5 linked regions of the Homo sapiens genome follow. The protein of the gene in region 5 purifies or fractionates together with the protein of the main gene of each other region. This does not show direct contact. Each region holds a gene or a part of one and is shown on either strand. Other genes may lie near its edges. The genes, in order: FEZ1, SAAL1, FSD2, ATP6V1A and MYO1D.

The links.
Region 1: the proteins of MYO1D (region 5) and FEZ1 purify together in Homo sapiens (co-immunoprecipitation; one large-scale study listed by IntAct). This does not show direct contact.
Region 2: the proteins of MYO1D (region 5) and SAAL1 purify together in Homo sapiens (co-immunoprecipitation; one large-scale study listed by IntAct). This does not show direct contact.
Region 3: the proteins of MYO1D (region 5) and FSD2 purify together in Homo sapiens (co-immunoprecipitation; one large-scale study listed by IntAct). This does not show direct contact.
Region 4: the proteins of MYO1D (region 5) and ATP6V1A purify together in Homo sapiens (co-immunoprecipitation; one large-scale study listed by IntAct). This does not show direct contact.

The regions. Positions count from the first base shown.
Region 1 is NC_000011.10:125,484,407-125,490,673, forward strand, and holds part of FEZ1 (fasciculation and elongation protein zeta-1), read right to left. Parts: intron 5,417-6,267; 5' UTR 5,372-5,416; coding exon 5,061-5,371; coding exon of another isoform or gene 5,057-5,060; exon of another isoform or gene 3,793-5,056; intron 1-3,792. UniProt on the Homo sapiens protein: May be involved in axonal outgrowth as component of the network of molecules that regulate cellular morphology and axon guidance machinery.
Region 2 is NC_000011.10:18,088,111-18,094,377, reverse strand, and holds part of SAAL1 (protein SAAL1), read left to right. Parts: intron 1-2,053; coding exon 2,054-2,133; intron 2,134-3,884; coding exon 3,885-3,944; intron 3,945-4,087; coding exon 4,088-4,203; intron 4,204-4,867; coding exon 4,868-5,048; intron 5,049-6,267. UniProt on the Homo sapiens protein: Plays a role in promoting the proliferation of synovial fibroblasts in response to pro-inflammatory stimuli.
Region 3 is NC_000015.10:82,759,988-82,766,254, forward strand, and holds part of FSD2 (fibronectin type III and SPRY domain-containing protein 2), read right to left. Parts: intron 6,045-6,267; coding exon 5,911-6,044; intron 5,312-5,910; coding exon 5,179-5,311; intron 2,292-5,178; coding exon 2,115-2,291; intron 1-2,114.
Region 4 is NC_000003.12:113,790,858-113,797,124, reverse strand, and holds part of ATP6V1A (V-type proton ATPase catalytic subunit A), read right to left. Parts: intron 2,254-6,267; coding exon 2,131-2,253; intron 2,036-2,130; coding exon 1,921-2,035; intron 1,250-1,920; coding exon 1,186-1,249; intron 1-1,185. UniProt on the Homo sapiens protein: Catalytic subunit of the V1 complex of vacuolar(H+)-ATPase (V-ATPase), a multisubunit enzyme composed of a peripheral complex (V1) that hydrolyzes ATP and a membrane integral complex (V0) that translocates protons.
Region 5 is NC_000017.11:32,757,595-32,763,861, forward strand, and holds part of MYO1D (unconventional myosin-Id), read right to left. Parts: intron 3,034-6,267; coding exon 2,888-3,033; intron 2,811-2,887; coding exon 2,696-2,810; intron 2,533-2,695; coding exon of another isoform or gene 2,518-2,532; exon of another isoform or gene 2,218-2,517; intron 1-2,217. UniProt on the Homo sapiens protein: Unconventional myosin that functions as actin-based motor protein with ATPase activity. Plays a role in endosomal protein trafficking, and especially in the transfer of cargo proteins from early to recycling endosomes.

The sequences.
Region 1 (6,267 bases), on a different chromosome or scaffold from region 5:
TTCCAAGTCTTTATGAATTCTGTAATTGGCATCGGTATGGGCATCAGAATAACATACCAAGTTCCTAATCATAACCTAGGAGAGCAGTTTAGAAACTGGCTCTGCGTGAAAATTAGCTGGGCGTGGTGGCCCACACCTGTAATCTCAGCTACTTGGGAGGCTGAGGCAGGAGAATCACTTGAACCTGGGAGGCGGAGGTTGCAGTGAGCCGAGATGGCGCCATTGCACTCCATCCTGGGCAACAAGAGTGAAACTCTGTCTCAAAAAAAAAAAAGAAGAAAAGAAAAAAAAAAAGAAACTGGCTCTGCGTGAGAAACCCATACGTACGATGATCCTGAACATTGTGTTTTCATGGATCTACAGAAGGAGGAATGGCAAAGGTAGCAGGGGTGCATGGCCACTTTCTATGTAGATCTCCAGCCCAGGGAAGGGCACAAGGAAGGCACAGGCAGATGCTGGCAGCCAGCAGCCTCAGCAACAGAGGAGCCAATGCAGCCAGGGCAGGGGGAAACAGCTTTCTGTGAGGAAGAGAAAGGGAAGGGCTGTCTATCCCATCATATATCCCATCATAAGCAGGGTTCTTGGGAGTGTGCATCACCCCTTTTGTGAGTACCCGGAGGTGGACTGTAAAGTTTTACTTCCCTGAGAAGCATCCTGCTATTTACTCTTACCTTGGGGAAAGAAGACTTTGAAAGCTATCTCCTCTATCATTCATCAGAGAACTAAGATTAAACAGGTTGCCTCAGTTCCTATCATTATGCTGCCATGACACCTGAGATTCAATTTGCTCTCTCCATCCCTGTATAACAGAAAAGGCTTTTTCAGGTGCATATTTTATAGCTTGGGCTTAGGTGCCTGTAGAATTGACTTAAGTATCTTTCGCCACAGAGAGCAGGGGCTTTGGGAAAGGCTGCTGGCAGAGTATGAGCAAACCCAGTGGAGGAGGGTGGAGACTGGGGGGTGCCAGGACACGTGTACAAAGAACTCCAGGGCCTGGAACTGGCAACATAGCCATCAGGGTTCTCTCAGTCCTGATGCACACGTAAACCCTTATATACCTATTTCTGACAATATGGCAGGCAGCTTAAAGGGCTTATTAGAATTCTAACTTGCTGACATTTCCCTCAAGCCTGGCTACTTCCCTTGTCTAGTGTTTTGCTGGTGTGCAGTCATGCCAATATCCACACCCAAATGTGTATTAATTTGAGTACACCTTTGCACTTTATGTTTAGAAAGTAGAAATTAGTGGCTGGGCGTGGTGGCTCACGCCTGTAATCCTAGCACTTTGGGAGGCTGAGGCGGGTGGATTGCCTGAGCTCAGGAGTTCGAGACCAGCTTGGACAACATGGTGAAAACCCATGTCTACTAAAAGACAAAAAAAAAAAAAAAATTAGTCCGGCGTGGCAGCGTTTGCCTGTAATCCCAGCTACTCGGGAGGCTGAGGCAGGAGAATTGCTTGAAACAAGGAAGCGGAGCTTGCAGCGAGCCGAGATCATGCCACTGCACTCCAGCCTGGGCAACAGAGTGAGACTCTGTCTCAAAAAGAAAGAAAGTAGAAATTATTAGCAGCACATTAATGCGTTTGCTCAACTTTCTAGATGTCCTCAAATGTTTAAATAGAATCAATACTATATCCGCTTTCTATAACCTCTAAAAAGAGAATTAAATTTTCTAAAAATCACAATTATGTGTAGTTTTCCCTAGCTGACTATTTGGTATTTACTTGTCTTCAACATGTAGTATATCTGATGACAGGCAGTTTATTGTGTGCACTTTATTTTTAACATCACCTATAACAATTCTATCTGAAGAAACAGCCATTGCATGGTTAGCCCCTCTGTCTTCAGGGTACTCGTAAGAGGGCTGATAGGGATCCCCAGTGACGTAGGAGGTAAGCTGAGGGCCGTCAATTTCCATTTTGTAGTGACCCCTAAGAGGCTGTGACCTCCAGGCCCAATCTCTTATGGCAAAGGAAGAGGGTGGTCACATATACACAAAGAAGAGATTCTGGGATATTTCTTGAATGCAAAACCAAAAAATGTGTATTCAAATCTGACTCTCCTTTAATGCCTAGAACTTCCATGCCCTGACAGATCAGAGATAAGTTGACAAATCTTAGCCAACTCCCCTCTTGGCTAAATAGTTCCAAATGAAGACTAAAGAAAGCTTCTAAGGGAATCACTACATTTGCTCTATGATTTGTGCTGTCTTTAAGGAGGCAGTTTAACCAAGTATTTCCCTGCTTTTGTTTTAAGCTTCTATTATTTACCTCTAACCCATCCACAGCACTTTTCACTCATTTGTGGATGAAACAGCCCTCTAAATACTAAACCGGAACAAGTTTATAACAATAACATTAGAGCTATGTTCAGGAGAAGTGTAGTCAGGTGAGATATTAAGTCACCCTTTTCCTTTACTTAGCCATAATTTCACAGTTGAAATATCTGGATAGTGTCTATGAAACAAAGTGTGTAACAGAATTCTGATTTTTATTTTAAATTATAAAGAGGGGTTAGAACTGAATGCCTAGAAAGTGTTGTGTTAATTTTTCTCTTCCCAGCTTCCTCCCGCTACACTGTCCCCAAATTATACCTTATCTCGAAGGAATTATTCAATCTTTGGTCTCTTAACTGAGGCAGTCAATGAGGCAGTCAAGTCAGAAAAATCAGGCTGAGGAGGCCAATAATCCCATGTGATGGTAATTAACATTGAGTGGCCTCTTCTAATGTGCTAGAAGACAGTAAGAATCTGCTCATTGGGCCTTCATCCTTAATGAGGCAGAGGAGGGGTTTTGATAGGGGGGAAATGATTTGTTGGAAGCAAAAGGAATGGGACGCATCTTGAAATGTCATTTTCAGAGCACCTGGGCATCCTGGGTGAGGTAAGAAATTAGGTTCTTTACAAGTCCTTAGCCTCACTTCATCAAGATTGAGCTCTGGAGGTTTCATAGATGAGGACCTACACAGTCAACCAGGGTTAAATGACTTGCCCAAGGTCACACAGCGAGTTAGAGAGAGTACCAAAATTAGAATTCATAGTCTTTGTATTTCTAGTTCATTGGCTGGTGCACTAGAACGAAAAAATATTCGGCATAATAAACCCCCAGAGCCATTCTTTTTTGACTTATAAATGTTGAGCAGATAACAGGCTCAGAATCTAAAAAGAATCTGTTTGAAACTTAAAATTTAAACACATAGCCCACAGCTATAGTACTAGTCAGCAGAATGAAATGTTCTCTGTGATCATACCTTCCGGCCAGCATTAATTAAAAAGAAAAGAAGGAAATGGTGTGGGCTTAGAAATATATTACATGTACATACAAGGCTACTAGCTATTATCACTCATCTAGTTTATTTGATATTCAATATTTCATTCAAAAATATTATTTGCACATTGCACTGTATTAGACAGTGGGGCTGTAAGAGTGAATCAGACAGATATTTGGCCCCTCTATGTGTAAAAGTAGAGTCTTACAGTAGTCATCAAATAAGCAACCCTCTCCCAAATACAGTCAGGTTCCAATCCTCTAGGACGTGCCTCTTACCCCATTATTTGTGGGCCATTCTTCCCACTCAAATCCACAAAAAGGGAAACAAAAGCACAGGTGCTTCAGACTTCCCTGACGTTTGACATTTCTTGTGTGATAGCTAAGAACAATGGATGCATATTGTATCTCTGCAGGGAACTCATGTAGACAGTAGTCCCCCCTTATCTGTGGTTTTGCTTTCCCAGGGCTCGGTTATCTGCTGTACAGTACAATGAAATATTTTGAAAGAGAGAGAGAAAGAGAGACCACATTCACATAATTTTTATTACAATATATTGTTATAATTGCTCTATTTTGCTGTGAGCTGTTGTTAGTCTCTTACTGTGCCTAACTTATAAACTGAACTTTATCATATGTACGTACATACAGGAAAAAACATTAGGGTTTGGTACTAGCAGCGGTTTCAGGCATTAACTGGGGGTCTTAAAACATATCCCCCACCATGGGCCAGGTGTGGTGACTCACGCCTGTAATCCCAGCACTTTGGGAGGCCAAGGCGGGCAAATCACCAGGTCAGGAGTTCGAGACCAGCCTGGCCAACATGGTGAAACTCCCATCTCTACTCAAAATACAAAAATTAGTCGGGCATGGTGGCGCACACCTGTAGTCCCAGCTACTCAGGAGGCTGAGGCAGGAGAATAGCTTGAACCTGGGAGGTGGAGGTTGCAGTGAGCCAAAATTGTGCCATTGCACTCCAGCCTGGGCGATAGAATGAAACTTCATCTCAAAAAAAAACAAAACAAAACAAAACAAAAAAACACATCCCCCGAGGATAGCGGGGAACCACTGAATTTTTACTAAATGCCTAAGACATCCTTCTTTAATTTGTGTAACATATCACCCCCTTCTCTTTCTAGTCCCTCCTGAAAGAGTACTTTTCTCAGATCCCTTTTCTTGACTACTATTAAGACCCTAGAAAGTAGCGAGCAAGTGATACAAGGAATCTGCATACTCAAAGGCCACATCACCTAGTTTCCACCTTTACTTTGTCCAGGGTAGCCCGCTGTGCTCTCAGTTCAGTTTAGATGCTTTCTTATGTGGACATATCCTAACATCTGTAGATAACTCTCCAGGCCTGAGGGGCTGTCAAAAATTCGGGATTTTCAAAATTCTGGTGTTTCTTGAAGCAAATTAGTCCAATAACATAGATTCATCCATCATGGTTAATTAATTTTTTCTGGCCTTTATTTCTAATATCTCGCTGGATTTCCACTGATATAAAGAAAGCTTAAGATAGACAGACCCTGAAATTTACTGTGCTCCTGAAATTCCATTTTGTATCTAGGAAAACCTTCATTCCTCTAAGGTTTCAATTTAAGAAAGTTCTCCTCAGGGGACTGTAAAGGGACATATATAGAGCTATGACAGCAAGTACCAGGGCACTGCTCCGCTGGCAACACGAAAATGAAAGTAATAGCCCATAAACCTATAGACAGAAACCAGCACTATGTCAAGGAGACAAGGACTACAGGGCTCTCGACTGAAGCAGGAGAGGGCAATTAAGACTTCTTACTCCTCGTCCTGAAGGGTCTCCTCCTCCTCTTGGATCTGTAACTGGTTCTTCACGGGAGCTAGGTTCTCGGTCTTGGCGTTGTAGTTCCGAAAGCAGACATTGAGCTTCTCATCAAATTCATTTACGAGGTCCTCCATGGACTTGAAGCTGATTATTTCGGAAGAAAAATTCTCAAGCTCGGAGAGGGAGGGGTCCTCGAGATGGTGGGGAGATGAACCATAGAAACACTGGGGCTTCTCCTCCGGGTCCTCCGAGCAGGAGGGTCGAAGGTCCTCAAACTCTTCATCCAGACTCACCAGTGGGGCCTCCATTCTTGCTCAGCAGGAGAACAACAGCGACTTTCAGGATGAGTTTATCTAAAAGAAATGAACAGCGTAATGTGAGTTTAGACCAGGCTAATCTAAATAATAGAGTTAACTTTAGAGACACACCTGCTTCCAATTCCCTACTCCAAAAAACAAGGCACTGGTTAAGTACGAAGCTCCTGGACAAGATCGTCTAGGTTTGCATTCTGTTCTGTCCTACCAGCTGTGACCTTGGGCAAGTGATTAATTGCTCTGTGCTTCTTATTCTTCTCAAGACAGATATAATACTGAACCCACCTCAAAGGGCTGTTAGAAGACTAAAGGAGTAAACACAGGTGAGTGCTTAAAACAGTACCTGGAAGATAATAAGTGCCAATATTATTGAATACTTTCTGTTGGTGTTTTAGTATTATTATTTTTATTACTATTACTATTACCACAGATCCATATCCTTAACTATGTGATCTGAAAGCTGAAAATTCTCCATGACTTGTTTGGCAGCAAAATGTGACATGATCTAAACTCATCTGGCAACTAAACATGACCAACATGAATATAAAGCTGTTCATGGCTTTAATTTATCCCATTTTGTGTGTTTTGCTGCAGAAATATTAACTTTTTAATTACAAAGATTGCTATCCCAGATCCCACTGGATGAAATGCGGAATGTACACTCTATTACTACTTTCCAAAATCTGAAATAATCTGAATTCCAAATGCCTGGCCCCAGGGGTTTTGGATAAGGGTTTGTATACCTAGATATTACTACCCTTATCAATAAATAGTAGAAACTAATAAAACATTGGCTGGATGTGGTGGCTCATGCTTGTAATCCCAGCACTTTGGGAGGTTGAGGTGGGAGGATCATTTGAGCTCACTCAGGAGTTCAAGACCAGCCTGGG
Region 2 (6,267 bases), on a different chromosome or scaffold from region 5:
CAGCTCTGTGGAACCTGTGTGTATGAAAAGTCAGCTCTGCATATTGTGCAGGTTTTGCATCTTGAGGACACTGTATTTTCAGTCCAAGTTTGGTTAGAAAAAATCCACCTATGAGTGGACCCACACATTCAAACCTGTGTTCAAGGGTCAGCTGTACTCTCTAACCCTGAATTCTGTATGTCCTCAGTGATTTATGGTCACACTTATCTAATCATAAAAGTCACCTGGTATATGCTGGGTAAACAATAGCTTTCCAGGCTCTACCCTGGAAATTATGATTCAGTAGATCTGAGATGAGATTTGGAAATCTGTATTTTTAACAAGCTCCCTGAGTGATTCTTATGTTCCAGCAAGGTTGGAAACACTGTACCATCTGAACTCATTGTAGCCTTTTATGCACTTTCTTTTTTAGTTTTCCTGTCAACGGGACCAATATCACTGATGGGGAAATGAGGCAACTTGAAAGCTAGGAGTCAAGTTCAACTGCTTTCTCCTTTATCCTCACACTGGATTATTTTGCTTTCACCTTGAGAGTCTTCCTCAGCTTCATCCTTTTCCATGCCTGAGGGCCCTCCTCCTCTTGCATCTTGATAACTGAGGTGCAGTTTGGAATAGTGGTTAAATGCTCAAGCTCTGGAGCTCTGCCGTGTTCTAGTTGGAGATCTTAAGATCTTAGGCAAGTAGCTTAACTTCTCTGTGCCTTAGTTTCCTCATCTGAAAAAATGGGGATACTATTAGTACCTATCACCTAAGTTATTATATGAAATTATACACAGAAAATGCTTAGAGTAATGCCTGGCCACCGTGAGTGGTAATAAACTGTTATTACATATTAATTAACTATTACTGAGATAGATTCTTAAGTTCTTTTCAACTTCTTTTCCCTATACACTAGTCTCCCCTTATCCTTGGGGGTTGCATTCCAAGGCCCCCAATGCCTAAAACCGAGGATAGTACTGAACCCTATTTATAATATGCACAAATTTCCTTTTCCTTCTTCACAGTTTCATGGATAGATTTGTTCTTAGAGATCCTAAGCAACCTCAGCATACATTTTTGTTTGTTTTTCTTATGAAGTCAAGAACTTTTACCTTTTCATGTAAAGAAAGCACTTAATGGCGGCTCCTTGGCATATCCAAATTGCCAGCATCACTACTCTTGTGCTTTGGGGTCATTATTAAGTAAAATAAGGGTGACATGAACACAAGCCCTGTGAGATATCCCGATGGTCGATCTGATAGCCAAGATGGCTACTAAGTAACTAATGGGCAGGCAGCACATACAGTGTGGATATGTTGAACAAAAGAATGATTCACATCCTGGGTGAGACGGTGCAAGATTTCATCGTGCTGCTCAGAAAGGCATGCAATTTAAAACATGAATTGTTTATTTCTAGAATTTTCTATTTAGTACTTTTATACCAAGGTTGACCATGGGTAACTGAAACCATGGATAAAGAGGGACTACACTAATACATTATGCATTTCGCCACCAGAGTAATCTTCCTAAGATACTGTTTCAGTATGTTGTCTCCCCTCCTTGAGCATCTTCATGATTCCAAATAACTTCCCAGATTAAGTCTAATTCTTCAGCACGGCATTCAGAGCCCTTAATCTCAGTCCTTTATACCTGCAGTATTTACCTCATGCTGTTCACCCACTTTGTGCCACAACCAGAGTACTTTATTGTCTACAGTATTCGCCATGTACATGATTCCCTTCCTGCCTTTGCTGATACTTTCCCCTTATTTGAATGTCTGTCTTTTTGTTTGCATATCTCATTCCTATCAATCATTTAAAACTCATTTTATCGATAGAAGTTCTTCTCGCATAGCTCCTGCCTTTGCCCTTTCTTGTTCTTACGTTTTTCATCCCTTCTCAAATACTGTAAGCTTGTCAAGGTTAGGGTACAGGCAGTATATGTATTTCTTTATCCTGCCTCCCCTCCGCCTTGCCCCAAAACTTGGCTCAGCGAAAGTTTTTGTTCAAGTTGATATTTTTGTTTACGTCTTTCGTCTCAGAGCCATTGTGACTTGTAAAATTTGATTTGGCAGGAAATCTGTGTGGGAATTTTAGGTAATATGGCCTGTTTCCAGGAGATATGTGTGTCCATCAGCAGTGATAAAAATCTTGGGTAAGTCTTACTATATAATTATGTTTTTTAATATATTCATTTATATCCTTAAGGAAATTCTAATACATAGGAAAAGTAGCAAATCTGAAAGACAGTCCTTTCTTTGTCTTGATGAACACTCTGTGGGAACTTCATTGTGTGTTGATGATAGCTAGGGGCTTCTTCAGGAGATACTGAAATGATTCAGGATTTAAGCCTGTTTTCTTCAGTAGCAAAGGAACCTGAATTGTCAGCTGGTGGCAATAAGCCAGATAGGGGAAGAACCAGTGGGCCAAAACTTGGAGATGGGGCAGCCAACTGGAATCCAAAACAGTTTAGGGGCAGGGAATCCAATGACTCAGCTGGAGTCTACAGAAACTAGATTTGTTGAATAATGTCATCCTGAGAGCTCTGACTTAGAGTGTAAGACTTGCCAACAACTGGAAGATAAAGGGTTGCCTCTCTGATGAAAAGACTTTCAGATATCTGCTTCGAGGCTCGTTCTCTTCTCCATGTGTAAAGTTCTGGGCAGAAGGTGTTTTAATGGAGGAAACCCCAGTGGTTACTGTGTTCGGAGAACACCCCGAAATTATATGCTGAATTTTGTGAGTGTATTAGTTTTCTAGGCAAAGGGTTCATGGCTTTTAATCAGAATCTCAAAGAAATTTGTACCCAAAATAGGTTAAGAAAACTGTTCTAGGCAGTTTTTGTCAGAGCTGGGGCCATGAGGGTTTTATCACAGGATTCAAGTACCTGGGTTTCTCAGAAAGAGAGAACTCCTAGTTGTGGAGGGACTTTAAGATCCTAGTTCAGAGTATTTATTCCTCAGTAATTTACCATCATCCATGGAACAAATGACTTAAGATTATGTTTGGTCTCTAATGTTCTCTATCAAAAATCCAAAAATGAGAAATGTTAACAAATGTTATAAATTCAGTTAAATGCTTGTCTTAATATTAGTGTGGTGCAATTTATATTGCTGATGGGATATAAATTTGTTGAACCACTTTAGTTGGGCATTATCTGGTCACGTTGGAACATATGCATGTGCTGTGACCAGCTCATAGTGGGCATATATGGTAAGAGAAACTGTGCACGTGTGCATCAGGATAACTCTTAACAAATATTGTAGGAGGATTGCTTGAAATAGCCCCAAATTGGAATCAACAGAAATGTCCATCAACAGTAGTCTGGAAAAATAAATTGTGTTATTTTCACACAATGGAGTGCTCTGCAGCAGTCTGTCAAAGAATAACAGCTAAAGAAACAACATGGGTAGATCTTACATGTATAATTTTCAGCAAATAAATGAAGACTCAATAAGTATAATTTATTTCATATGTTGTCTCCCCTCCTTGACTGTCTTCATGAATCCAAATAACCTCCCAGATTATGTCTATTTATTCAGCATGTCCTCTTAATCCTTTTACCTGCAGTATAAAGCAACACCAAAATATATAAAATAATAAAACTATAGTGCAAAGTAAGGAAATGATTGCTGGAAAAATCAGAATGGTCATCATTTCTAGGTGGGAAAGAGAATTGTGATTTGGAATGGACACATGGTGACTACAAAGATGCAGCTCTGTTCTGTTTCTTGGAAACACGAGTGTTTGCTTTATAATTATTTATTAACTATAGATTTGTATCTTTTGAGCTTTTCTGAATATATGCTGTATTTCACAATAAAGATGTTCAAAAAATTAAATGAAAACTCTGATATTTTAAATGCGAGAAGTGAGGCATATCGGTTAACTTCTTTGTTTTTGTAGGCAGGTGTTATTGCACTGTTTGTATGATTCAGACCCACCTACTCTGCTGGAAACAAGCAGGTATGCTTTTCCTTTTATGAATTCTATAAGGTTACTCATAAGAGTAGATAAGAAAAAAAAGTTAATTTTTTATTTTCGAATTTCCTTTACTGTTTTTTTTTTTTTTTTGAAAAGTAGAAATTCAACCCACGTTTACCATGTAGGTTGTTGCTTACTTGCCTTTCCCAGGCAGAAGTGGCCAGTGTTTGGGTTGAAAGGATCCAGGAACATCCAGCTATTTATGATAGCATTTGCTTCATTATGTCAAGTTCAACAAATGGTAAGTCATCATGTACTCTAGAAAAAAAATGTTTTAAATTGTATCTAATTTTTAGGAAACCATGTAACTATTTCTAGAAGTCACCTTTTTAAAAAAAGCCTTGAGTGCAAGGTAATGAAGTTTGTTTGAGACAGAATCTTGCTCTGTCACCCAGGTTGGAGTGCAGTAGTGTGATCATAGCCTACTACAGCCTCAAACTCCTGATCTCAAGGTATCCTTCTGTTAATCTCCCCAATAGCTGGGACTATAGTCATGCACCGCCATGCTCAGCTCATTTTAAAATTTTTTGTAGAGACGGGGTCTCGCTTTCTTGCCCAGGCTGGTCTCCAACTCGTGTGTTCAAGCAGTCATCCAGCCTTGGGCTCCCAAAAGTGTTGGGAGTATAGGTGTAAGCCACCATGTCCAGCTTTTTGTTTGTTTTTTTGAGAAAGTTTTTTGATTGAAGATACAAAATTTCTTAAACTCCTGGGACACTGATAAATTCCTCATTTAAAAATGAGGAAAGATAAGCAAATTTAAACATAAAAGATAAGTAAATCACCCTTTAGAATAAGTACTGCTTTGGCAAGATTTGGTTTTCTTAGAATAGCTTTAGGAATTTTGCTTAACCCTATTGCTTTTAGCAGTTTGTTTTTCATTTCAATATCTGTTTTATTCTCTGCAGTTGACTTGCTGGTGAAGGTGGGGGAGGTTGTGGACAAGCTCTTTGATTTGGATGAGAAACTAATGTTAGAATGGGTCAGAAATGGGGCTGCTCAGCCTCTGGACCAACCCCAGGAAGAGTCTGAAGAGCAGCCAGTGTTTCGGCTTGTGCCCTGTATACTTGAAGCTGCCAAACAAGTACGGTAGGTGAGCTCTTTTGTGTAAAATGTTCTGGGAAAATGCAATTGCTAGAAGTATTCTCAGATATAAAAGTCTTCTTATATTCCTTACAACAGAATAAAGTACATAGTCACTCCTTGTTACGTTAATTCACTACTACTATTTGTGATGCAACCTGTATAGTGGTTACAAAGTTCCTGTTATATTATCATTTAGCTATAGGCTGTTACTCAACATTAACTGTGGTTTCTGTCTTACCATATTTTATGTAATTTAAATCAAAGAGAAAACATTTTCTTGTGCTTTATTTTACATTGAACATTTAACAACTTCATTAACGTTGCACATCATTTGCTTTTTTTTGCTCCTTGTGTTTATATGCCAGTCTTCAATAAGTGACCGATGTTGGGACTCTGATGTCTTGCCAAGAGTGATTACTAAGCCTTACAGGTCATTAAAACTGTTTATTGCTAATCACTAGAAAATTAATTTTTAAATTGATCTGCTTAGTGTTTTTCTTAGTGCATTCTTAGTGCTGAGTAAGCCACATCAAAACCTATTAATTTTGTGTCCTTTATCCAAGTGAGGGATAAATTCATCATCTTTCCCTAAACCTGCTTCATCAGTATTCTCAATCTCAGTAAATGATGTAATCATTATCCTATTTGGATAATGTAGAAGAAATGGAGAAGCCAATTACTGAATCTTTCCTGCCCCAGTATTTTCCCATTGCAGTCAACTCCCAACCCTTATTCCTGACATTTTCTGGGATTCCATCCATGCCAATCAAGCCATTATTGTTTCTCATCTGGAGAACTGCCACATTCTTTTACTTGAATTCCCTGCCTCTATGCTTGCTCTTCCCAAGCCTAGACTTTAAAGCTGTTTTTGCAAAGTACGCACTCATTTCACTCTCATGCTTCGGTCTTTTCAGTTGCCTTCCTTAGGATAAGGTCCAGAAAAACAAACAAACAAACACAGCTTGGGTACTACATACATCACCTGGGTGATGGGACCATCCATATTCCCAAACCTCAGCATCATGCATGTAACAACCCCCAACATGTACCTTCTGAATCCAAAATATAAATAAATAAAATAGGGGAAAAAAGAATGAAATAAATGAAAAATTCTCAAAAAAATAAAGTACAGCTTATGGACCCAGTAGCGCTATCCTTATTCCTTGTACTCTGCGTTTCAGTCATGTGAAGTTTGCGTCACTTCTTCAACTGAACCAGGCTG
Region 3 (6,267 bases), on a different chromosome or scaffold from region 5:
TTCACTGTGTTGCCCAGGCTGGTCTCGAACTCCTGAGCTCAGGCAGTCCACTTGCCTTGGCCTCCCAAAGTGCTGGGATTACAAGTGTGAGCCACTGCTTCTGGCCGAAACATTTTTCAAACATCATTTTTTCTCTAGCAACCTCTTAACCTAAGAAATTTACCTATAGCATCCTGAACTCTCTTTCATCTAAACTAGCATAGGAATAGAACATGTTTTTAAAATTTGGATTAGACATTTGAAACAGGGAACCTTGTGATTTTCCATGTGATAAAATGGGCTTCTTGGTATAAGCTCTTCTATGCACAGTTACTCCAGTTCTTAAACTTTCATATTGAGTGGGGAGCCAGTGGGCCTGTTACCAATCAATACTATATCACTATCCATGCTCTACATCCTGTGTACTTTGAAAAATGGCAGAAATGAAAACCTGTCACAGGAATTTCCTAACCCTGCTACCTACAGATATTTGAAGAGCTCTTTGTGTCAACAGGCTAGTCTAGGCTACTGGGATAAACACTTGGAATATGATCTAAACGTGTCAGAGGAAGCCTGCCTGTCTCTAGCCCATTTCACCTTAATTTAACTAAGCAGCTGCCAGAAGCTATGAGTCGTTTCTTCTACTTTCTATGCTACCACCAATAAAGTCTAATACTATGAGCCAAAAATGCAAGTCTGCTAGGAGACCTTATCCTAGGATACCTTACCTTCATTCTCCACTTGTAACGTGTGTGCACGTGTGTGCGTGCACGCACACACACACACACACACACCCTACATCTGTAAGAAACTGGCTTGGCTCTAGCACTTGGACTGTAGCTTTTGCCCTTCTTTTGTCATTCTTCTGTTTCCACCCCTCTTCTATTGTGTCTTCTTACCCCCTTTATTCTTCCCTCTACACGTGGACTTCTAGGCTTTCTTTATGCTCCCTTAGTTTTACTCTGCCCCTTGTTCTTGCCTTTCTAAAGAAGAGACTTTGCTCTTTAGTCTTACTTCAGGCAGAATCCCCAAATAAAGTATCTGCCTCAGTGTATAGTAATTCTTGGATTCCCCAAACTGGGTGTGAGGTTTAGTAGATTTCATTAGAGTCTTCATCTGTTATCGGAGGGGAAGTTGGTTTTCCCACTTATGCTTGGGCATGACACATAATGTGTAAATAACCATGATAGAGGATCATGGGCAGAGAGCATTGGATGAACATTAATAGGATTCATCAAATCAAGGAGGGTCAGAGGCCCCATTTTACAAGGTGTGATAGGAAAGCAGTGTGGGGTCTTGTTTTTCAGTTTTTGAGGTGAAGGAAGGTTGTAACCATGGCCTTCTAAGTCTGAAAGTGTATTCATTGGCCTGGGCTTCGTGAGACTTTTTTTCCCACTATATGGAACTACTCCATGTGTAAAGACAGAGTGCCCAGCAGCAGGAGCAAACCAGAATTAGCCATAACTACTAAGCCTCTTGCCCACATTTACTTAAAAAGATGGAACTGGGGCTTCAAAGCAAACTGTATTGGCTTAATACTAAAGGTGAACAGAAATGAAAAATCTATCACTTAAGTGGTTAGGAATGAAATCTTTGGAACCAGACTGCTTGAGTTTGAATCCAAGTTCCAAATCCATGTCGTTTGGATTATCTAATTGCTGTGAGGTGTGGTCTTCTTATTTTTATTCTTTTATTTTATTTTATTTTTTTATTTTATTATTTTTTTTTTTTTAGAGACGGGGTCTTGCTATGTTGCCCAAGCTGGCTTTGAAGTCCAGGGCTCAAACAATACTCCTACCTCACTCTCCTGAGTAGCTGGGACTACAGGTGCACACCACTGCACCCAGCATTCTGATTTTTCAAATGAGATAACACAATTGTGAGAAGTAAATGAGATAATGCATGTAAGAGTACTTGGCACATAATTCTCCATAAATTTTAGCTATTTTTAGTTGAAGAAAAGCTGCTCTTTCTCCTCTTACTTGGACTTTAGGGAAAGTGGCTGGCAGCAACTCCTGAAATATCTTAAAATATTTGTAAAATATAACGTGTGTCTTAATTATTGCTAGTGAAAAGGTCTTGCTGTAATCTTTCAAAAGCAAATTTTAATTGTGAGTATCCAGATTTTACTTTACCTTGATGATGCAAATGTGTGCCTCATGCACCAGGAGAGGCAATTTGCTCCCAGATCCTCCTGTTTACGGACATCTGCAAAGGCCACACCAACTCTGTAGTCCAAATGCTCATCCACCTCCACCTCCCAGTAATGGTGCCCTCGGACTGGAATTAGATTTCCCATGACAGCAACACACCTGGTTTTAGAAAGTGGAAGCATGTGTGATCTGGGGTGCCCCAAGCCTGGCTGTGCAGGTCAGTGATGCCAGTTGCTGGGATCAGTCAGTCGGTGGTCTACGAACGTGGTGGTAGGTGCTTCTGGACACTTAACTTGTAAAGTACCCTTAGCTCTCAAAGCTCAGTGGGCTGATACTGAAGATTTGAGATTATGTTACTGCTTGGTAATGGGAGAGGAGGAGGCACTAAACCAACAGAACAAGTTTTGTTTGCTCTTTAAAATGGTTGGGGCTTTCATAGAAAAAGGTTTGGTTCACTTGTTCATAAAAAAAGAAAAGGGTTGAAAATACACAACACAGCACGGTTAAGGGAACCATAAGCTTGAAGTTCACCACCATTGCTTATGGTACTAAATGAACATGGAAGGCCTTTGAGGTAGCCATCATGTTAGGGATGACTCCTGGTGGAATTCAGAGGCCAGCCCAAGGAGAACAAGATAGCAGATTCCTCACAGATCATTAAAATCTACCTCCACTGTTGCACTGGGAACAATTATACTGACAAAGATTAGAGTTATGTTTTGTTCTACATCAGCAAAGTATCAACAGAGGAAGGTTTTCAGTGAAAATCAAATTATACTGGTATCTCCAAAGTGAATATTCTACCTTCTTCAGGAGACTCCTACATTAACCAAAATATATATAGACCTCAACATCCCTAGAAAGATTTGTTCAGTTTAAAATTTTCTCTCTACTTTCAAAACCCCAAGTTCTTACTGCTCAAGCAAAGCTTTGGGAAGGAGGTTGCATGTTGGTTAACTTCTACCTCGGTTACCTCACCTATAAAATGAGGCCATCTCTGCTTCAAGCTCCAGACTCACATTTCCACTTGTTGTTTCAAATTCAGAATGTCCCAAATGGAAAAAGTCATATTCCCACCCCTCTTATCTACCAAAGTTTGGGGTGTAGTGGGGAGGGGTACATACTTCTCACATCTCCATTTTGGTTAATAGAGTCATTATCTACCCGGTAACCCCCTGGTGGAAAACTAAGATGGGAATAATGTAGTGGCTACAAGCTCACCTTCTAGTTTGATTCCTGCTTCAACCCTTAATAGCATTATACTCTTGGGCAAGTTACTTCTCTGTGTTTTAAGTATTCTCATCCGTCAACTGGGATTGGTAATAGTACAGGGCTGTTAGGATGATTGCATGAGATGAAATACATTTAGCACTTGGTAAGCACTCTATAAATATGGCAATATGATAGTCCCTGACTCATCTTCCTCTCTGTTGCCCTTTAAACAGGTGAGCACCTAGCCTTGTTGGTTTTATGTGCTCAACAGCAGTTGACTCCCCTGGCTCCTCTCACCCATGCTACTGCGTAGTCAAGCCCTCCATAGTCTCCTCTCTGGTCTCTGTTTCCCATCTGCCTTTGCCTTTCCCTCTCCCTCCCCAGCTCACGTTCTACCATGCACTGGAATCTTTCTGAAATGTAATCTGATCTTGTTCCCCTGCTTTAAATCCTCCAATAATTCTCACCACATAGAGGATAAAATCCTAACTTTTTGTGTGTATACTGGACTTTCTCCGACTTTCCTGCCTCATCTTCCACCTCTTCCCGTCATGGATCCTATACCGCAGACATACCAAATTCCTTATATTTCTCCAAACATGATCTTTCCGGCTTCTTTCATATGTACATGTACAAAGCAATTATCTGCCTTGAACTTTGGAACAGACTCACTCCATGGCCAGTTTTCCATCAGGAGTTTTGCTGTAAGGTACCACAGTGCAGGAGAGAGAGCACTGGGCTAACTGGTGGGAGACCTGGGTCCTTGTTTCTGTTCTCCCACTAGCCCACAGCATGACCCCTGTGAAGCAGGAGAACAGGGTCTGGGGGCAGGGAACCTAAGGACTTCCTAGAACTAAATTAAACGGAAAAACCCCAACCTTCTAAGTCCAAGTAAATAGCTTTGTATTTCAGCATGGCAGGAAACATCCTCTTCATTTGCATAGGGTGTACACCCAGTAAATGACTTTGTAACTTCACTTTAGCCACTTCATATACATAGGGTGTACACCAAGTAACCAGTGGGAACCTCTAGAGGATATTTAAACCCCAGAAAATTCTGTAACCCGGCCCTTAAGCCGCTTGCTTGGCCCACTCCCACCCTGTGGAGTGTGCTTTCGTTTTCAATAAATCTCTGCTCTTGTTGCTTCATTCTTTACTTGCTTTTTTTTTTTTTTTTTTTTGAGAAGGAGTCTCACTCTGTTGCCCAGGCTAGAGTGTAGTGGCGCCATCTCCGCCCCGCGGGTTCAAGCAATTCTTCTGCCTCAGCCTCCCGAGTAGCTGGGATTACAGGCACCCGCAACAGGCCCGGCTAATTTTTATATTTTTAGTAGAGATGGGGTTTCAGCATGTTGACCAAGCTGGTCTCAAACTCCTGACCTCAGGTGATCTGCCTGCCTCGGCTTCCCAAAGTGCTGTGATTACAGGCATGAGCCACCGTGCCTGGCCTCTTTCCTTGCTTTGTTTGTGCATTTTGTCCAATTCTTTGTTCAGAACGCCAAGAACTTGGACACCCTCCACTAGTAATTCCTGTCCCACCCTCATGACCTCTGGCTGCTCCAGCTCTGGCAGCCTAGGACCCAGGGACCATGCCCTCCCAGGGGACCGCGCCCTCTCCTGACCTCACCGTCCCAGGGGGCTCTTCTGCCTGCACCTGCCTGACCCCTCTTGCCCACACTCCTCTGGGTCCCCTCCCCATTAGGCTCCTCCCTCCTCACTCATTTGTAGGATTCCTTTTCCCTCGAGGCTGCCTCCGTGCCATATTCGGATTTGACCTGAATAACAGTGCACCTTCGGGAAGTTCACAGAACGCCCTTGTGAGCGGTTGACAAAGTACCTGGTGAAGTGAGTGTCGCTGGGTGACAGCTCCCTGGCGGGGGTTCTCCTTTCACTTCGTACAGCCGTAAGTCCGTCTTCAGAAATGGTCAGCCAGGGATGGCAAGTGTCCTTGTTTAGGCGAAAGTAGCTTCCTGTGGGAGGAGGAACACACAGAAGACCCGCAGCCAATCACTTGCTTTCTCCATGTGGGCGGTGGTCACCGGTTTAGCTTCGTGTGGGATACACCTAAGCCTGGACCTGGCCTAGTAATAGGCGTCCAGTTAACAAGGATGGCAATTGACACTCATCGGGCAGTCTTGTGTGCCTAGTATCCCCTTCAATCCTCACGACGACCCTTAGAAACAGGTGTCACTATTTCCATTTTGTAGATGAGGAAACAGAGGCACAAGGTGGTTAAGAAATCAGCTGGCAAATGATAGAACTTAAACTTGAACCCCAAGCCCCTCTGATTCCAGAGGCTGTGCTCTTTACCTCTAGCTGTAATGCCTGTGTATGGATAAGAATTTCTAACCTATTTGCCAAGGGAAATAGGAATTGAAGGACTTCTTAATGATCCATTTGACTTGCAATTAGGGCAGTATGGGACACCCCTGAACTCCTTCTGGCCTGACTTGCCACGTGTCCACATCTGTGCATATTCATCAATTTCCCAGTGAAGTCATAGCAGCACTGGGTCTGCCACAGAGTGGCCACTTTGGGTCCCAGAGACTTTGTGGGCTGGGGCACAGACCTATGGTGTGGACTGTAGCTGGCTCGCTCCTCACGCTGGGGCCCCCCATATTGAGGGCTCGCACATAGATAATGTAGCTCCGCCCCGGCTGCAGCTGCACCACGGACTCGCAGGTCGGGATGCCCACAACAGACCTGTACAAGGAAGCAGAGCTGCAGTCAGAATGGGGCTAGGACACCCAGGCCCAAGCACCAGGCATCCCTTTCAAAGCTGGAAGGTTTAACTCACTCTTGCGCTCCTGTCCTCTGACCCACATTTAACAGCAGCATAGCCAGGAGTGCTGGCTCCCCCTCTGCATTCCCTCCCACAGTCTCTGGTCTGCTTTTCTCACTTCATTGCTACTTCTTGTGTTTGTGG
Region 4 (6,267 bases), on a different chromosome or scaffold from region 5:
TCTCTATTAAAAACACAAAAAATTAGCCAGGTGTGGTGGCGGGTGCCTATAATCCCACCTACTTGGGAGGCTGAGGCAGGAGAATCACTTGAACCCGGGAGGTGGAGGTTGCAGTGAGCTAAGTTTGTGCCATTGCACTCCAGCCTGGGCAACAAGAGTGAAACTCCGTATCAAAACAAACAAAACAAAAACATCTAAGTGTTTTGATTAAATTTAGTTGCCTATCATTCACAGGGCCAATCCAACAACAACTGACAGTGATTTTTGTAAGGGCAAACATTCACAGATATTCCATGCATTTCTAACTCTGTTCCCTCTTTCCCCATAATTTAAAACTCAAAATTTTAGCAAACGTTAAAAAGCTTGAGAGTTGTACATTTAGCCTCTGACATTTCCTTTTCTCTGATACTGTCAGAAACACAAGTAAATATTCTGTTTTTCCCACATGAATAATATACACATATCACTTTTTTTTTTTAACTATAGCTCTGATTTGTACACATCTTTTATTTGGGCTTCTTTTAATAGCCAAGCTGGCTACCTATCCACTAAAATTCATGTCTTGTCACTGGAAAGCAAATGCTTAGGCAGAAACTGCATTTTCCAGCCTTGCTTTCACCTGGATGTGGCTAATAGAATGAGTGGAGTGACTGTGTCACTTTTGAATCCAAGGTTCAAAAAAGGTGGGTATGCCTTCTCCACAAGGCCCAGCTCCCTTGTGTCAGCTAGATGCAGATGATCACCAGGCTAGGTGACAGTGGAGTCACAAGATGGAAAGAATCCTGGACTCAGAATTATCACTAAACAGAAGAGAGCCTTGGATCATACTGTGAAGTGAAATAACTTCTGGGTATTACACATTTTTGGGCCTCTTTGTTTCTATAACTAGGGTTACTATGACTTAAAGGATAATACTACTCTAATACTAATAAAATTTTTGCTACCTATATTTTCCACTTATATATTATTAAGTTTATTATAAATCCTATGTAAACAGCTAAGAAAAAAACAGACAGTATTAAAGGCTCTGTGTTAAGAGTGTTTCTAAACCAGACTTTACCATTGCCTATCCTTTAGAGACTAAATTAAATACTTCACAACGATTACATTAGATCGCATTAGAACAGCAGGGGCTGCAGAGAGGAGGAAAGGCTCAGAAGTTGACTATACTAGGGAAAGACATACCTGAACGATACCAAGAGTGGCAGATGTAACTGGATCAGAAAAATCACCACCAGGTGGAGAAACTCTAAATTTAAAAAAAATATGGTCATTACAAAAAAAATGGTCATTAGAAATGCTTATGAAAAATAACATATATATAAATGTTAACTTTTTTTAAAGTCGATTTTAATGTAAATAACTTTTTAATGTAAATAACTTTAGAAATGACCTTTGGAAAGAAAATCTTACCTAAAAATCTTAAACAAAAGCCAGTATTTAAGTTGTAAACAACAATAGAAACTACAGAACACCTTCTATTATGAGACATGAGATAGATATTTTATTATAATCAATTTTATTATTCTAATCAAATAGATGAAGCAAGGAGGAAACGCTCTAAGAAAAAAGTATGGCTTTATGTAGTGATCACGAATCTTCACTTTCTTTTTACCGTGATGCAATCTCACCTTATTATGTCTATAATTTTCTAAATTATAAAAATTAAATAAATATCTAAATTAAACATATAAATATATAAATTAAAGTCAAACCTATGGAACCAGGACATGTAGAAATTGCCTAAACATGTGCATCTTCAAAGAGCTCCTTAGGTGACTCTGGAGTGCAACCCTCCTTAAGAACCGCTGCTCCCAGCGGGAGCTAAATATTCTCTCTTTAAAATAAGTGACTTTTTTTCTCTCTTTAATACATCTGTGACTTTTTTCCTTTTGCAAAGTAAATAGTGTGGGTGCTTACGCTCCTACAATGCTGACACTCCCTTCTCTTTCAGGATTTCCAAGACATTTCACCCTGCCTGCTCGTTCATAAAACGAGGCCAGACGGGCACCAAGATAGGCTGGATATCCACTATCTGAAAAATGAAAAGAAATTTTAAAACAGAGTTTCTAAGCCAGCCCCGAAAATCCCATCAGTCTTGTTTACATGATAAGCAATACACAGACTTACCTGCAGGCATTTCAGCTAAACGACCAGAGATTTCTCTAAGGGCCTCAGCCCATCTAGAGGTAGAGTCAGCCATCATACTGACATGATAGCCCATGTCACGGAAGTACTCTGACAGTGTGATTCCTAAATTGGGAAGAATATTATTATAAGTTACAATGCTAGCATATAAAAATCCTGTTTTTTTCCACCCTTAAGAAAACCTTAAAGCAATAAGTACACAACGTAGACTGCTAGTGGCTCCCTCAAAGCTGCTCTTCCTCTTTTTCTGGGCACACACTGAATTGTTTCCTAGCATCCTGTGCACTTAGATATGGCCATGTAACTGATCTCTGGCTAACAAAACTCAAGTCAAAATAATGTGTTCTACGGTCAGGCAAGTCACACGCTCTTCCATACTCTTTCTTCCTTCTGGCCTACTGAAATGGAAAGAACTCCCAGTAGTCTTGGAAGCCATGTGTTGAAAATGGTAGAGCTCATTTCAGGCTGGATCATGGCTCAGAATGACAGAGTAAAGAGTGCCCTGAACACTTGAAATAAACATCTATTATATTGAGCAAATATATATTTGGAATTATTTGATGCCATAGCCTAGCTGGCCCTAATATAATGCACATTTTAGAAAGCAGGAAATGACTTTCTCTATTCTTTGTTGAAATAATTAAGTCTGAAATTAATTTTCAAATGTAGCTTCTCTCTATATATCACATACACACACACAAACATGTATGCATGCAAAAGTAACCCTTAACCAATCAGCTTGGGTGGTTACTTTTCAAAAGTAGCAAATGTTATTAAAATGAGTAATATCTTAATTGTCCAGATTATTCTGCTATGCAGATCAGGTCCTATCCTGTAAATTTAGACAGTAAACCACTTATAAGCAGCTAATATACAGAAACGAGTGTTGGGTTCTAGTTCCTATTCTGTCATTAACCTTAGCAAAATAACTTGATTTCCCAGTGTGGCTTCCTAACCTATTAAAAATGGAATAACGCCTGCCCTATATACTTGTATATATGGCAGATGAAGTGAATTAAATAAATGTCATCTAAAAAGTACAAAGCGCTATGAAACACTAAGATATTAGGAAAAATATATAGTTATATTATAAAAGTTCCAAAAGATTTTGGAACTTTTATAATGCCTTGGTTTTTTTATTTTACTGGTAAAGAAACAGAGGTTTATATAAGTAAAATTAACATAATTAGTGGAAAATTCAGTACTTTCCTATTTATCATATTGCATCTTTCAGAATAAAAAATACTGACTGTTCAGGCATCCATAAAATGGTCTCATGAAGAAAGTCTTTAGGAAACATTACTTATCAATATTAAGGCTTCAACAACACAATAATTACCACATATTCCAATCTAATAAGAACAGATTCTTTCTTATACAAGCATGCTGTGTTTTAAATCTGTGATGAAATGTCACAGATACTTGTGATATTAGAAAGAAATGGCAGAAAAGACAGATACATATGAGTAAGTGAGAATTCTCTGACAGACCTACAGGTATCAGTGCCTACAAGAAAAATATGCCTCAGACAAAATCAAGAGATAAACAAGCTGGGACATATTTGCAACTCATGACAGATAAAGGACGAATTTATTCATTAATCAAAGAGTTTCTGGCCAGGCGCGGTGGCTCAAGCCTGTAATCCCAGCACTTTGGGAGGCCAAGGTGGGCAGATCCCCCGAGGTCAGGAGTTCGAGACCAGCCTGGCCAACATGGTGAAACCCCATCTCTACTAAAAATACAAAAATTAGCCAGGTGTGGTGGTGGTGCATGCCTGTAATCCCAGCTACTCGGGAGGCTGAGGTTGTAGAACTGCTTGAATCCAGGAGGCAGAGGCTGCAGTGAGCCAAGATCGCACCACTGCATTCCAGCCTGGGTGACTGAGTGAGACTTTGTCTCAAAACCAACAAACAAACAAAAAAAAACAACAAAAAACCAAAAAGAGTTTCTAGAAATCAGTATGAAAAACAACTATCATCCAAAAGGAAAATGAACACAAGGCAGTTTTTAAATGGTTCATACACACAAGAAAGATGCTAGTTCATTGTTAAATACAGATTGAACAGGTATCTAATAAAGCAAGAATAGTTAAAATTTCAATTGTCAAATCTAAGTGCTGGGTACATGGTATTCACTGTAACATTCTTTCAACTTTTCCGTATCTTTGATAATTATCATAAGAACGTGTTGAAAAAACTAGCATTGGTGAAGATGTTGAGAAGCAGAAACTCTTGTCCACAGTTAGCCCTTTTGAAGGGCTATCAGAATGTAAAATAATAATTAGCAGCTGTATTGGCAGGAATTTTGCTTCTAAGAAATTACCCTAAGAAATGTACAAAGAGGCCAAGCATGGTGGTTCATGCCTATAATCCCAGGACTTTGGGAGGCCAAGGCAGGAGGATCTCTTGAGGCTAGAAGTTGCCCATCCTGGGCAACATAGTGAGACCCCCATCTCTACAGAAAATAAAAAAATTAGCCAGGCATGGTGGCTCATGTCTGTAGCCTCAGCTACTTGGGAGGCTGAGATGAGAGGATCCCTTGAGACCAGGAGGTCAAAGCTGCAGTGAGCCATGAACATGCCACTGCACTTCAGCCTGGGTGATAGAGCAAGACCCTGTCTCTAAGGAAAAAAAAAACATGCAAAGAAACATGCATGCAAAACATACAAAGAATAGTGTAAAAATATATGTTTAAGGATGTTTTAGTGCTGCCTATCGTAAACGACGATAAAGAATCCAATAGTCCACCAAAAAGATGCCAGTTAAATTGATTATGATATATCCATACAAAGGGATACTGTGCAGCCATTTAAAAGAATAAGGTAGCTTTCTTAAAATGGTAGATGAATATGTCACTGTCTCTTCCTCATAAAACTTACCTCCAAACAAGGAGAACAAGAAATACAGAAATACAAATTTAGTCATTAAAAACTAGGAGACATAGTCCCACAACAATATAATTTAAAAAGTCACCTAAATAAGGTGAAAACCAAATAAGGGTATGGAAAAATGCCAAGAATTCATCTGAGGCCATGCATCTCAGATAAAGCTTCTGCAAACTTGAAGGCACATCTTCAAGTGCCTTGTTTGTTTCCAAACAAAGCAAGAGTGCTTTGTTTGGAACACTGCAAAAAGCTACATGGCCAGTCGCAGGAAGGAGTTCCTTGTACTCAGTTTGGCATCAAAGAGAAGCAGGAAGATAGGGATGAATAAAACACAAGTAGGTACTCCCTATTTTCACTAAATGAAAAGTGGGTGAGACAGAGGAGAATTCACTGTGAATGGTCTTACAGCTGCTGATTTCTGGTATCAGGCAAGAAGAGTAAAATAGCTTTTTTACACAGCTGCATGCCATAATAAACTTCACAAGTTACCATGAAGAATTCCTGCTACCCTGGTACACAGTCACAGCCAGCCCTCTCATCTCCTACAAAGATGAGTAATAGTAATAATAAATATCAGTACAGGATATCTAAACAAAAATAAAATAAGGAAAAAGACAGAAGAGAAGAATACAATGATGGTCAAATAACTTGTCAAAGAATAAATGAAAACTGTGACCACAGTTAAAAAAAAAAAAAAACCCTAATAATGCAGCCTACTACAAAATAAAATCTCAAGGCATATGGAGTAAGATAAGAAGAGATACTTGATGAGCTGAAAGAACAAAAAGAAATAGAAGTGAAGGTTTCATTAGAAGCAACACAAAGAATAAATACCATTTATCCTGTGAACAGACACAAGGCTAAATAAAAAGGAGTAGAGAGGAAATGATGCACATGGAAAATAGATAACAAAAACCTAACATGTCTAGTTGGTATATTTGAAGAAGACAGCCATAATGAAAAAGTTTCAGATGCAATTTTCTAAATTTTTCCAAAATAAAAGACATATTTCATAGATGAAAAGGGCACATTATGTATCCAGAAAAATTTAATGAAACTATCAATATTGGAATATATCTTAATAAAGTTAAGAGACTTCAAATTTAAAGAGAAAGTCCTTTGGGAAAAGAGAAAAATCACCTACAAAAGGAAAAAAAGAGGCCAGCTTCAGCTTTTAATGTCCCCAGCATTTAATACTAGTTCTCACAGAAAGAAATATTGATCAAGAATTTTAT
Region 5 (6,267 bases):
AAGCAGGAGCTCTATATTAATAGTTGACATCTTAGACTTCGGGACTGTGAAATTAAAGACGAAGTCTTTTGTCCCAGGGACTAAAGAATTACCTTCCCTAAAATCCCAATTATATTATTAAAAGCTATTGGTCTCTGCTAGTAACTTTCAGTTTGTAAGTTTAATACTGCTTCAAACATTGCTTAAACCAGTAGTTTTCAAACTAAGTTCTTCCAGCAACTTGGCATTCCCGTAAGGTTTCCTAAGGGATACCAGGAGCCAGAAGACTTGTGATGGGGTAGCTTAGGGACATGGGGCTCTGGCCTTTCATACCCACTCCAGATAAAACAGCTTTGTGCTTGAGTATCAAGTTCTCAATAGTTAAAATGATTTGCAAACTACAGCATCGAAAGCTTTTAAAAGTGAATGTACCAGATAACCAGACATTATGAACCTCCTGGTGGAAGTTCACACACAGTCTATGAAATGGGCTGTGGAAAAAAACTGACTCTGAATCCAGTCAAGACTCTAGATCTAACAACCAATATACAGGACATACAAGAAACAGAGAAACATATTAAATGGCACCTGAGGAATGCAATTAGCAAAATCCAGACTGTGGGGAACTCCATAACAAATGACTCATTCTCTTCAACACAAGATTGCAAAGAGAGATCATTCAAGGAAAAAAAGAAACATGGAGAAAATCTATAGATATGCAAGAGACCTATCAATCAATCATAATGTAAGAAACTTATTTGGATCCAAATTTAACCTGCAAAACAACAACCAGAAGACAATTAAGGAAATATGAAACATGTATACTGACTGGATATTTTATGATATTAAGGAATTTTTGTTAATGTTTTAGGTATGATAATGGCATTGTGATTATGGTTTTTGTAAAACTCTCTTAGAGAAATACATGGAAATATTTACTGAATAGATACCCAATTGAATAGATGAAATAATGTGATATCTGAAATTTGCTTCAAAATAATCTGGGAGTAGGTGGGTATAGTACAGATGGCATAAGACTGGCAATCAACTGGTACGTGTTAAAGCCAGGTGATGGGTATATAGGGTTTACTGTACTATAGTCTGTCTTCTTAATGTGTGTTTAAAATTTTCCATAATAAAAAATCTTTTAAAAAGAATCACTATGTTTAGAAGTTTGGGGTTTTACCCAGAATAGAGATTCTAATTGTGGGGGGATCTGCCATGTAGTAAGTAACTGTTACCTTGGAGTTAGCCTTCTGCTCCCTCTAGGACAAATAGTTCTTGGTTTATTTAGCGAAAATTTTTTGCATTTTGGGATTCTTAATTCTTTTTGAGATGTTTGGAACAGTCCACTGCATTACTTACCCTGTTGTCAATTATGTCTGTGAAATTTGATATTCTGATTGTGAAAGGATATTTTTGACTAGTACCTTGGAATCACATTTGAATAACAAGTTTTATGATTAAATTTGGTATTAAAAATCCAAGCTTCAGTTATACCGTGTATTATATTATACAACAGTTTCATTCTTAGAAAGCTTCATATACACTTAATTGAACTGAATTAAATTTTAATTGTATTAGGAGAGTTCATTATTTAAGTCAAACTATAGATAATTCTTATATAAAATAGCCCTTTGGTTTATATGCAGATAGGTAAAATTTATGCCAATATACCTGAGCAACTGTTTTATGGTATTCTAACGTTTAACACATGATGGAAGGCAGATACAATTTTGAGGCGGGAAAGCTATTTGTTATATCACTGTCTCTTTATTTCAGAATGAGAGGAAATAGAAAATAGGTAGGAAGGAAGATAAAAGTCATTTAAATATAGTATTTCAAATATTTTTTTGCTGCTATTATATTGGATAACAAAAAACAAATACTGGCTTCATTTCTATTCTCTGGCAAGAGGATGAACAATCATATAAACTCAAACTACAGAAACTTAAAAGTTTTTGTATTTTTCAAGTTTATTCTCAAAATTGCTTAAAAATACAAACTTACAAGAAAAATTACTATGTCTCATTTCTATCATAAACAGAAGGTCTTATCACAGGAAATTTAAAAACCAAACAAGTCATGCCTTTTAGCTTTGATCTCTGTGGTTTGCACTGTGCACCCATTATACTTTCCAGCTATATCTTACCAGATTAGTTTGCCTCTGACAAATACAAAAGTTCCCAAAGATTGATTAGAGTAGAGGTGATAATTGAAGTGTAATACACAAGAAAATGCAAAGTAAAACAAGTATTTTAATGTGTAGGTTTCAGAGAATATAAACAACATTAACTGAAGACAATAAAATACCATATAGTCTACAAAGTAGAAGAGGAGAAAAAGGAGGAAAAAGGGAAGAAGAAACTAGATTCTGAAGCAAAGTTCAGCCAATTTAAGGTATAACTTAATAAAGTATGCTAAACCTAACAGACAGATATAAACCAGTAAGTCCACGTGGTAGCAGCCATAAAGTGAAAACAGGTTTACTGGTTCTAACTCAGGATGTTCTGGGCATCAACAAGGCAGTCTATCAAATTATAGCAATCCCACCTAAAAATGATGAAATTAATTGTATTTACATATCCCAAAAAGGAAAGCTAAGGTTCAGATGTTTCAAATACCCCCAAAAGATCAAGAAATACCTAAAATAAAATTTGACATTATCAATAATATGAGAAACACATGAAGGCATTTTCCATAAGAGTCCACTCACATGTTTCCAGGGGATCCCTTCCCGCTGGTATTCCTCTTGTTCTTGCTTCAGAACCAGCTGAATAAATAGCTGCTGCAGTTTCTCATTGCAGTAATTGATACAGAATTGTTCAAAACTACAAGAAAAGGAATAAATTAAGTTTCAACAAATAGAAAACAGGCAACAAGGTTTTAAGTATCTTTTCCAGTTTACCTGTTGTTGTCAAAGATTTCAAAGCCATAGATATCCAAGACACCAATAACAGTGTTTTTCCCATGGATTGTGGTGTCATAGTTCTTGACCTCAATAATATCATTGATGCGAGTAACGATCCAACAAAAAAGGCGCTCATATATTGCCTGCAAGGAAAATAGCATCATAAATGCTTGCCAATTTGGGAATGAGTCCTCTGTTTGGATTTGTGATCAGTTTTAAATTCCTGTCCACCTTCTCACTGTTTAGCATAGCCATTACTGGCCTCAGCAGAACAAATGAAAATGTAGACTGTCCATTTAAAAAAACCCAAACTACCTGATGTATGCAAAACTAAAGTAAATAGCTTGTATTTTTAAAAGATTATTACCGGTCATTATACCAATTCCAACGACACTCTCCAGGCATGTTTCCCTGCCCGGCTATATCAATAGTTTGCCTGATCCCTTGAATAAGCCAGTTCATTGCTTTATTATTAATTTCATCAACTATAAAGAGTTGAGAGCTAGTGAGTTAATATCTATGATCCACTAAAGCTATATGAATTCTAAAAAATATAAATATTGATTTCTAATGCTAAATGAAGATCTGAGCCAAAGATCAAGGGTTGAAATTCCCTGAGAATCGAACACACATCCAATGCACAAGAACACACACACTAAGCCACACATGGACAAAGGTGCCACACGCTAACACACATTCACATCCCGATACACATGTGCTCTGCAACGTCACATCGTTAGAAAACCTTCCTTAACGTCTCCTGCCAGCTACCCACTCTCTTCACCCATATCCATTACCTCCCCTTTACTCTTCAATCCACTCCAGTCTCCACTTACATCCTATTACTCCATTGAAATGGCTCATCAAAGACTCCCAGCACCTCTACATAGATACTTCTCGTACCTCATATGGACATCTTGCTCTGTCGCTCAGCATCACTCAACCTAGGTTTTCACTGCCTTCTTGGAACACTCTTCTCTCTGGATTTCGGATAATAGCCTTTCTGAATTTTACTCTTTGTTCACTGGATGTTCCTTTTTGGTGACCTTTGGTAGAGTCTCCTCTTCTACCTGACTTGTAAAAGTTGGAGTTCTTCCTGGTCCTCTTCTCTTCACTCTCTAGCACCTTCTAAATCATCTCACCCAGGATTAAATAATACAAATATAATATGACTCCCAAAAGTATTATCCAAATCCAGACTCAGAGAACAGTCTCTGAGCTCCTGACTCAAGAGCTTGACTGTCTACCTGACACTGACTCTTCAATGGCTCACAGCCATCTCAAACTCAAAGGACTCTTGATCTTTCCTCTTCCAACAACTGTTCCTATCCTACTTTTAGCCACAAATAAATAGCACCACTTAGAAATTCACTGATTTATTCAACAAATATTTGCTGAATACTTATTATATATAGTTTGTTAGAGATACAGGTCTAGGCAAACACAAACATAGTCTCAATGTCCAAGAAACTTAGGGAATAGAGTGAAGGAAAAAATTATTCTCTCTGTCTCTCTCACTTGCCCCCCACCTCGCAGATAAACATCCACACTAAAGGAGAGGTACATGGGGTCTTAGGGAAATTTAATCTATGCAGTGCTCAGGAAGGTTAGGGAAGGCCTCTCTGGGAAAGTGATACTTGAGACCAGAAGGATGAGTAAGAGGTAGCCAAGCAAGAGAGGAGAGAAGAGCAGTCCAAGCAGAGGGAACAGATGTGCACAGGCCCTGTGACTGGAAGGAGAAAGGGATCAGGATAATCTGTGAGGACTGAGAGAAGACTAATGTGCTGGGCTGAAGAAAGGGGGGCTGGGTATAGTATAAAATGAGGTGGGAGAGGTGGGCTGGAGCCAGACCATGTTAAAGTATTATTCTTGCTTCTCTCATTCTCCACATAATAGGTCCTATGGATTTTATTTTCTCAACACAGTCCATTTCAAATCATCCTCCTCTCCCCATTTGTACTTTCACTTTTCTGATTCAAGCTGCCCTCATCTCTTTCCTGGATTAACAAAATATCCCCTTAATTGACCTCTTTGCTTCCATTCTTACTCTAGCCCCCATAACATTCTCCATACTAAGGCCAGAGTGATCATTTTAAAAATGCAAACTTGCCAGGTGCAGTGGCTCATGCCTGTAATCCCAACACTCTGGGAAGCTGAGGTGGGCAGATCACCTGAGGTCAGGAGTTTGAGACCAGCCTGGCCAACATGATGAGACCCCATCTCTACTAAAAATACAAAAATTAGCCAGGCATGGTGGCGGGTGCCTGTAATCCTAGCTACTCAGGAGGCTGAGGCAGGAGAATTGCTTGAACCCGGGAGGTGGAGGTTGCAGTGAGCTGAGATCATACCATTGCACTCCAGCCTGGGTGACAGAGAGACACCGTCTCAAAAAAAAAAGAAAAAAAAAAAAAGACAAAAAAACGGCCGGGTGCGGTGGCTCACACCTAATCCCAGCACTTTGGGAGGCCGAGGAGGGTGGATCACAAGGTCAGGAGATGGAGACCATCCTGGCTAACATGGTGAAACCCTGTCTCTACTAAAAATATAAAAAATTAGCTGGGCGTGGTGGCGGTCGCCTGTAGTTCCAGCTACTTGGGAGGCTGAGGCAGGAGAATGGCATGAACCCGGAAGGCAGAGCTTGCAGTGAGCTGAGATTGTGCCACTGCACTCCAGCTTGGGCAACAAAGCGAGACTCCATCTCAAAAAAAAAAAAAGGCAAACTTGATGTCATTGCCCCTCCTTAAAGTCCTCCCTATTGCTCTCCATTGCACTTAGGAAAAATTCAAATTCCCCCAAAACTAAAAACCAAGCCTAAGACTTACAAGAGTAAAAAATGAAATAGACAGTAAACTAATCAACCAGCAAAACAACAACAACGAAAGTTAGACGTGAGAAAATACAACGCTTGCCACACAGATAACAAAGGGTTAAAGTTTATGATATGCTAAGAACACTTAGAAATTGACAATAAAAAGATAACAGCTCCAAAGAAAAATGCACAAAAGATATACCCAGGCAATTCTTAGAATATGTTAAAATACTCTACAAAAATATGATAAGATGCTCAAATATACTAGTAATGAAATAAAAGTAACAATAAAATATTACCATGCAGCCATAAAATCAGTAAATTTAAAGTTTAAAATAAATATATGGCAGGTGCGGTGGCTCACGCCTGTAATCCCAGCACTTTGGGAGGCCAAGGCAGGTAGATCGCTTGAGGTCAGGAGTCCGAGACCAGCCTGGTCAACATGGTGAAACCTTGTCTCTACTAAAAATACAAAAATTAGCTGGGCGTGGTGGCACACTCCTGTAATCCCAGCTACTTGGGAGGCTGAGACAGGAGAATCACTTGAACCCGGGAGGTGGAGGTTGCA